Linked DNA regions of Homo sapiens. The protein of the gene in region 2 purifies or fractionates together with the protein of the main gene of each other region. This does not show direct contact. Each region holds a gene or a part of one and is shown on either strand. Other genes may lie near its edges. The genes, in order: RBPJL and PTF1A.

Evidence for each region.
Region 1: the proteins of PTF1A (region 2) and RBPJL purify together in Homo sapiens (affinity purification with western blotting, with the first as the bait; one study listed by BioGRID). This does not show direct contact.

Annotation. Positions count from the first base shown.
Region 1 is NC_000020.11:45,313,148-45,316,956, forward strand, and holds part of RBPJL (recombining binding protein suppressor of hairless-like protein), read left to right. Parts: intron 1-320; coding exon 321-458; intron 459-887; coding exon 888-997; intron 998-1,265; coding exon 1,266-1,418; intron 1,419-3,039; coding exon 3,040-3,195; intron 3,196-3,329; coding exon 3,330-3,433; coding exon of another isoform or gene 3,434-3,443; intron 3,444-3,538; coding exon 3,539-3,809. UniProt on the Homo sapiens protein: Putative transcription factor, which cooperates with EBNA2 to activate transcription.
Region 2 is NC_000010.11:23,190,970-23,194,845, reverse strand, and holds PTF1A (pancreas transcription factor 1 subunit alpha), read right to left. Parts: upstream 2,535-3,876; 5' UTR 2,316-2,534; coding exon 1,532-2,315; intron 1,143-1,531; coding exon 940-1,142; 3' UTR 601-939; downstream 1-600. UniProt on the Homo sapiens protein: Transcription factor implicated in the cell fate determination in various organs. Binds to the E-box consensus sequence 5'-CANNTG-3'. Plays a role in early and late pancreas development and differentiation.

The DNA.
Region 1 (3,809 bases), on a different chromosome or scaffold from region 2:
AGGCCTGTGGGCACATTAGCCAGGCCGGCACAGGGACAGAAGATTGGAAACTGTCTGGAAAGTCCAAGGAACCAAGCCAGGACAGGGCACTGATAGCACCAACTAACCTTAACCCTCACCCTGACCCCCTCCCTCACCCTAACCCTCACCCTAATCCTAATCCTTACCCTCACCCTCACTCTAACCCTCACCCTAATCCTAACCCTCACCCTCACCCTAACCCTCACCCTAACCCTAACCCCAATCCTAACCCTAACCCTATCCCCTCACCCTAACCCTGACCCTCACCCTCACCCTAACCCTGACCCTCACCCTCACAGTGTGCATATCCTCCGGCTCAAAGGTCTCCCTCTTCAACCGCCTGCGCTCTCAGACGGTCTCCACACGCTACCTCTCTGTGGAGGATGGGGCCTTTGTGGCCAGTGCACGACAGTGGGCTGCCTTCACGCTCCACCTGGGTAATGACATCTGCAGGCCCTGGAGCTGGGCACTTCACATGCATTAGCTTATTTAACCTCCACCACAACTCCTTAAGGAAGGTAAACTCTGCCCCATGTGATTAAGGCTCAGAAACACAAAAAGACTTGACTACAGTCCCAGTGAGCTGGTGACTGTTCCAAGCTATTCTGACTCCCTTATCCATGCCCTTTCCCCATATATCAACTAAGCTGCCTGCCCCCAACCCCTGCCCCCAGGGCAGACATTTGTGAGGATGGCCTCAAATGGCCTCTCCAGAATTAGAACCTTCAGTTGGCTCCCCTGAGTACCAAGCTTTCCCGCAGGGCCCATGTGTGATGTGAGGAAGAGCCAGAGGCAACAAGGCAGGGTTTAAGGCAGAAGCTTGGGGGCCGCTGAAAACCTTGTCCCTTGCTTTTTTTGTCCCCCAGCTGATGGGCACTCTGCCCAAGGAGACTTCCCACCGCGAGAGGGCTACGTTCGCTATGGCTCCCTGGTGCAGCTCGTCTGCACGGTCACCGGCATCACACTACCTCCCATGGTATAGGAAGGGAGGGCATGCCTGGAGGGGTCCCCTCAGATCCATGCAGAGAATGTGGCACACACGGGCAGGGCTGGAGAGTGAGGCCCCAAGGCATGGAGACACCTGTTCTCACCCAGTGTCGCGTAGGACCAGACAGAAGTCAAAGGGCAGGGGGAATCTGCTAGTGCCTGTGTGGCTATTGGAGTAGCAGACAGCCGGCTAGGAGGGCAGCCTCTGGACGCCCGGGCTCCTTGCCACCACTGTTCTTACCATCCTTCCATTGCAGATCATCCGTAAAGTAGCAAAACAGTGTGCGCTCCTTGATGTGGATGAGCCCATCTCCCAGCTGCACAAGTGTGCATTCCAGTTTCCAGGCAGTCCCCCAGGAGGGGGTGGCACCTACTTATGCCTTGCCACAGAGAAGGTGGTGCAATTTCAGGTAAGAAGCAGAGAATACCAGCACCAAGTGTCCTGGAAAGGGAGAATGCAGAGAACCACAGAATGTAAGATCATCACCCTCACCATGGTTGCTACTTCCTGAGCAGCCTCCCATGGAACATTAAAATCATAGACTCCCAGGACAGAATCATAGGATGTAGAAAAATAGTAATAAGTAATAGTATGAAGCAATATTCCTTCCCAAAGAATTTTAGAGTCATAAAATATTGGGATATAGCCAGGTGCGGTGGCTCATGCCTGTAATCCCAGCACTTTGCGAGGCTGAGGTGGGCAGAACACCTGAGGTCAGGAGTTCGAGACTAGACTGGCCAACATGGTGAAATCCCATCTCTACTAAAAATACAAAAATTAGCTGGGCATGGCAGTGGGCGCCTGTAATCTCAGCTACTCAGGAGGCTGAGGCAGGAGAATTGCTTGAACCTGAGAGGTGGAGGTTGCAGTGAGCCAGGATCACACCATTGCACTCCAGCCTGGGTGACAAGAGCAAGACTCCATCTCAAAAAAAGTAAGTAAATAAATTGGGATATAAAATTGTAGGATGTAAATAAAAATCATGATAGGTAATAGAGAGCAGAGAATTAATGAGCAAAGACTATTCGAAGCACAGATAAAGACACAGAATGTGGAAAATTATAGAATGTGGAAAATAATAATTATCGTTAAGCAGTAGTACTCCCAAAAGAATATTATCATAGAATGTTACGAGATAGAATTATAATATGTGGAAAATAGCAAGTATTATTCCTTCCCCAAGAATATTCCTTCCCAAAGAATATTAAAATTGTAGATTATTAGAGCATAGAATTGCACAATGTTAAAAAAAAAAAAATTCTGGAATCCCAAGAAAAAAGACCCTTAGAAATCAGCTATCCCAGGCCGGGCCAATGGCTCATGCCTGTAGTCACAATACTTTGGGAGGCTGAGGCAGGAGGATCACGAGGCCAGGAGTTTGAGACCAGCCTGGCCAACATGGTGAAACCCTGTCTCTACTAAAAATACAAAAAAATTATTTGGGCGTGGTGGCTGGCACCTGTAATCCCAGCTACCCGGGCGCCTGAGGCAGGAGAATCATTTGAACCCGGGAGGCGGAGGTTGCAATGAGCCAAGATCAGGCCATTGCACTCCAGCCTGGGCGACAGAGCGAGATTCAGTCTCAAAAAAAAAAAAAGGAAGAAAGGAAGGAAGGAAGGAAGAAGAGAGAAAGAGAGAGAGAGAAAGAAAAAGAAAGAAAGAAAGAAAAGAAAGAGAAAGAAAAGAAAAAGAGAAAGGGAAAGAAAGAAAAGGAAGGAAGGAAAGAAAGAAAAAGAAAGAAAGGAAAAAAGAGAGAGAAAGGGAAAGAAAAAGAAAAGGAAGGAAGGAAGGAAAATAAAGAAAAAAGAAAGAAGAAAGAAGAAAGAAGAAATCAGCTAGCTCAACAAGCTTTCTTAACGCTAAGTGAGAGAACTTAAGGGCACTGTCCAAGCTGAGGGGACAAGTGAACCCCAGAGCCTAGGATTAGTATCCAGTTCGGTCTAACGCAGAAGCCCACGCGCCATGCTGGCTCCCTACACTGGTGGCCACCATGAGAAGCTTCGGCCTCGTCCCCTTGGGTCTCCTCCCAGGCCTCTCCCTGCCCCAAGGAGGCGAACAGGGCTCTGCTTAACGACAGCTCTTGCTGGACCATCATCGGCACCGAGTCGGTGGAATTTTCCTTCAGCACCAGCCTGGCGTGTACCCTGGAGCCGGTCACTCCGGTGCCTCTCATCAGCACCCTAGAGGTGAAGCCGGGCGCTAGGGGCGTTGGGCAGGGGGACCCTGCCTGCACTGGGCAGTGGTGGTGCTAGTGAGTGGGGGGCAGCGGGTTCCCGCCCTACTTGGTTCTCTCACCTCACCTGGTCCCACCCTCCCCCAGCTGAGCGGCGGGGGCGACGTGGCCACGCTGGAGCTCCACGGAGAGAACTTCCACGCGGGGCTCAAGGTGTGGTTTGGGGACGTGGAGGCAGAAACCATGTACAGGTACGGGGTGGTGAGGCAGCCTCTCTTGGGCCCCGGGGAGCAGGGGAAGGGGGTGCACGCGTCGTCGGAGTCGCCGCAGCCCTCACCCTGGTGCTCCACCCCCAGGAGCCCGCGGTCCCTGGTGTGCGTGGTGCCGGACGTGGCGGCCTTCTGCAGCGACTGGCGCTGGCTGCGCGCTCCCATCACAATCCCCATGAGCCTGGTGCGCGCCGACGGGCTCTTCTACCCTAGTGCCTTCTCCTTCACCTACACCCCGGAATACAGCGTGCGGCCGGGTCACCCCGGCGTCCCCGAGCCCGCCACCGACGCCGACGCGCTCCTGGAGAGCATCCATCAGGAGTTCACGCGCACCAACTTCCACCTCTTCATCCAGACT
Region 2 (3,876 bases):
TAAAAGACCCTGGATTTTGTTGAGTGGCCTCCGAGTGGTCTCTAGGCTTTGGCACCGTAGCCTGTCCCATCTCCTTTGTGAGGAGTAAGCCTGAGTTCCAGGTACCTGATGCTGTTGCTGCCGAAGAGGTTGGTCACAGGGCAGCTCAAGAGTAGCCCCTTTCCCAGCCAGTGGAAGCAGAAAGGCCCATTCGCTTAGCCCACTAGCTCCCTGCTCCCACAGTGCACCGCGCGCTCACTTTTATACACCAGGAATAGACAACGTAGGGGTGACCTTGGGTAAGTCAAATGTCATCTCTGAGCCTTAACTTTACCATCTGCAAAATGGGAACAATAAATACTCCAGGATGTATTTGCATAGGGTGTTTGGAAGGTGGCCCAAAATACAGACAAAAGTTGCTGTGTAGGGCAGGCGACCTAGATGAAGTGCTGTCATAGAAAGTTGAGGTCTAATCCTCTAACCTACCCACCTTTAGGCTAAGTCTGAAATGTAGTTTCTTACTAAAAAGCTACACTTTGAGTCTCTGGTTTGGTTAATTTTTACTAAGTTAATTCTTTTTAAAGAGTATCTATCAAATCATGTACTCAAAAACCTTCAGGAAAAGGTGTAAATAGCATTTATTGACAACGCTTAGAAATAAACCATATCTGGCAATAAATAAGCAGGACGTTTTCTGGCCAGAGTTCTCCCAACAACACAGAGTTCAGGAAAATCATAGGCTATTGCATATTTTCAGAAAATCAGGATAAGTTATATAAATTATATATTTAAAAAGAAATCATCTATTTCATCAACTCAACAGGATAATAAATAGATAAATAATAAACAGTTGATTGCCATTCGAAAAATTTGATTCTTAAATTACATTTACATTATAGATATTTACATGTACAATATGCACAGAGACATAATCAGATCTTCAGCCGAGTCTGGGACTTCTCAGGACACAAACTCAAATGGTGGTTCGTTTTCTATGTTGTTGAAGGAAGATTTGCTGTTGAGTTTTCTGGGGTCCTCTGGGGTCCAGACTTTGGCTGTTCGGATAATATTTTGTTCCTTGAGTTGTTTTTCATCAGTCCATGAGAGAGAGTGTCCTGCTAGGGGAGGGAGGCCATAATCAGGGTCGCTGGGGGAGGGGGACCCTGGACAGGTGAGAAGAGAAAACAGACTGTGAATATCCAACCACATTCCCATTGGTCCCATCAGGTCCTTTAGGACCCTTTCCTGGGTGCTCTCCGGTTATACTAGAACCACCCTCTTCCTCCACACTTCAAGTCCCCACCGTCCCCTCCCAGGAATCCGAGGAGCTGCAAGTCTGGCGGGGACGCGCGCCCTTGAGAGCCGCGGTCAACGTGGCAGAAAAATAAAAAAAAAAAAAAAAACGAGAAACGCGAGCTCGCATTCAAGTTTTTCCGTGCCCACCGACAATCCGTCGGTCCGACTGTCTGCTTGGCAGTCAGCTCCCCCAGCCCCTCCGGAGCCTTCGAGTGCCCGACCCCTTCTCCCTGAGCTGGGAAGCGGAAGCACTTACGGGTGCCCCGATGGCAGATGATGACCTTCTGGGCCTGGCTGCCCGGGCTGTCCCCGCCCAGGCGCCCGCCGCCGCCCGGCCCCCCGCAGCCGCCCGCGCCACCGCCGCGCAAGGGCAGGTCGGCCTGCACGAGCTCGCTGAGGAAGTTGATGTAGCCGATGGCCAGGCGCAGCGTGTCCACCTTGGAGAGGCGCTTCTCGTAGGGCAGCGTGGGGATGTGCGAGCGCAGCCCCTCGAAGGCGTCGTTGATGGACTGCATGCGCCGCCGCTCGCGCACGTTGGCCGCCTGCCGCAGCTGCTGCAGCTCCGCCTCGGAGCGCACCCGCCGCCGGCGCCGCGCCGCCGCAGCCGCCGCTCCGCTCAGGCCGCGCAGCCGCGCCCCGGGAGACAGTACTGCCGCCCCGGCGCACGGGTAGGCCAGGCACGAGGGCGGCGAGCCGGGCGAGTAGGGGAAGCCGCCTGGGGGCGCCCCCGTCTCGCAGCAGTAGCCGCCGCCGCCGCCGTCGTCTGGCTCACCGAGGCCCCCCGAGGACGGCGGGGCGAGCGCTAGCGGGGCGGCCGGGGGCGCGGGCTGCAGCAGCAGGCACGCCCCGTCGCGGTAGCAGTACTCGTGGAGCTGGTGGCTAAGGAACTCCACCTCGGCCTGCTCGTCCGCCAGCAGCTCATCGCCGTCCTCCAGGGGGTCCCGTGAAGACTGGTCGGTGAAGAAGTCGTCCTCGTCGAAGTACGAAGAAGGAAAGGCGTCTAGGCCCCCGGGGAAGTGCTCCAGCAACACCGCGTCCATGCTCGCCGCCGCAGTGGGCAGCGGGACTGCCGGGCTGCGCGTGTTAGTTCTTGGTGAGTTTCTAAGGCCCGTCCGAGCCCCTCCCTCCCGGGGCCCTGGCTGGGGGCAGCTAGGCGGCCGCCGGGCTGCCCGCCCCCGGGCCTCCCTGGAGTGCCCGCGGCCGCTGCGCTCTGGCCCGCGCTCGCGCTGCGCTGGGGAGGGCTGTGGCGGACTTCCTGGAGCTGAGGGCCGGCACGCGAGGATTCTTATAACAACATCCATAGGCGCGTGCCAGGGACCCATCGCGCCAGCCAATCAGAGCGCGGTGTGCCGGCGGCGAGGGGGCCCGGAGGCGCGGCGGTGGGCGGGGGTGGGGGGCGTTTTGCTCCCTTTGGGAGCTCCTGGGGCGAGGAAAAGGCGGGGTCGCGCGGCCCGGGGCTCCTCGCACCGCTCTCTTCCCTCTCCTCTGCCTCTGCATACTGGATTCTGTACCTGCCCCGCGTGCGGCTCCAGGGGCACCTGCGTCCCGCGGTGCCCGCTGCGTACCCGCGCGCGCTGAGCAGCGCCGGCTCCTTCCGCCCTGGGACTGGGGCAGCCGCGCGCCGCGTCTACACGCGGCCAGAGAAGTTCCTAGGGGTGCGCGCCGGTGGCCCAGACGGCGAGAGCGGAGCCCGCGCGGCGATCGTCCTCCTCCGCGGCAGCCTGGGCAATCTAAGGGTGCTGCCCTCAGGGACCAGGTGGGTGCATTCCGCCACCCCCTTATCCGAGGTGCGCGGGGCTCCGGCCTGGGTTCTGCTGGGGGCTTCTGTCCCATCTCTGGACTTTTCAAGGGCTTTTGCACAGTTTGCAGAGTATATGCGGGTGTCATTGGAAGGTGATCCGGGCCCACTCCCACTGCGTTCCAGACGCAACACGGGGGCTGGGAGCGCACCTATGGGACTCCGCTCTGGAGCCTGGCTGTGGTGCCTGGTGCGGGTCCCCAGCGACATCGGCTCAGTGGCTGCCTCCCCTGCCCTCCCCGGCCCGGAGAAAGGAATGGGGAGACGGGAGGGGCAGCCCCCAGAGCAGCTCAGCGGGGCGCGTTTCTTCTGAGAGCAAATCTAGACCCTAGGGATTCTGAGCAATAAACTGGATACAAAAGGAGTCCATTGAATCGTCTGCTCCGGCGCAGTCCGGAGGGAAGGCATTGAAGTTAAAGGGCAGAATGTGAATCGTTTTCAAAGCCCGAGTCTCTCACCTTTCCGACTGGCCACAGGGACCATCCCTGAATGACTTGTTTTTTTCTTTCTCGACCTTTCTTTTCTGAAAAAAAAAAAAAACACAAAACGTATGCAGCTCTGCCCCAAGACAGACTTTATCACAGACTGCGATGCAACGTGAATTCCTCTTTTTAAGAGCAACAAAGAAACACTTTCAAGGTCTGGGCAATTCCGGTTAAAAGCCAGGCTGCAGCTTCCACCCCGGGAGAGTTCAGAAGCGCAGCCATCGTGCGTATTCTCTCTACAGAGGACTGAAAGGAGTCGTCCTCCTGGGCCGCTTCCTTTTTCAGGCACTTGTCTCACTAGAGGCTTCTGTTGGGTAT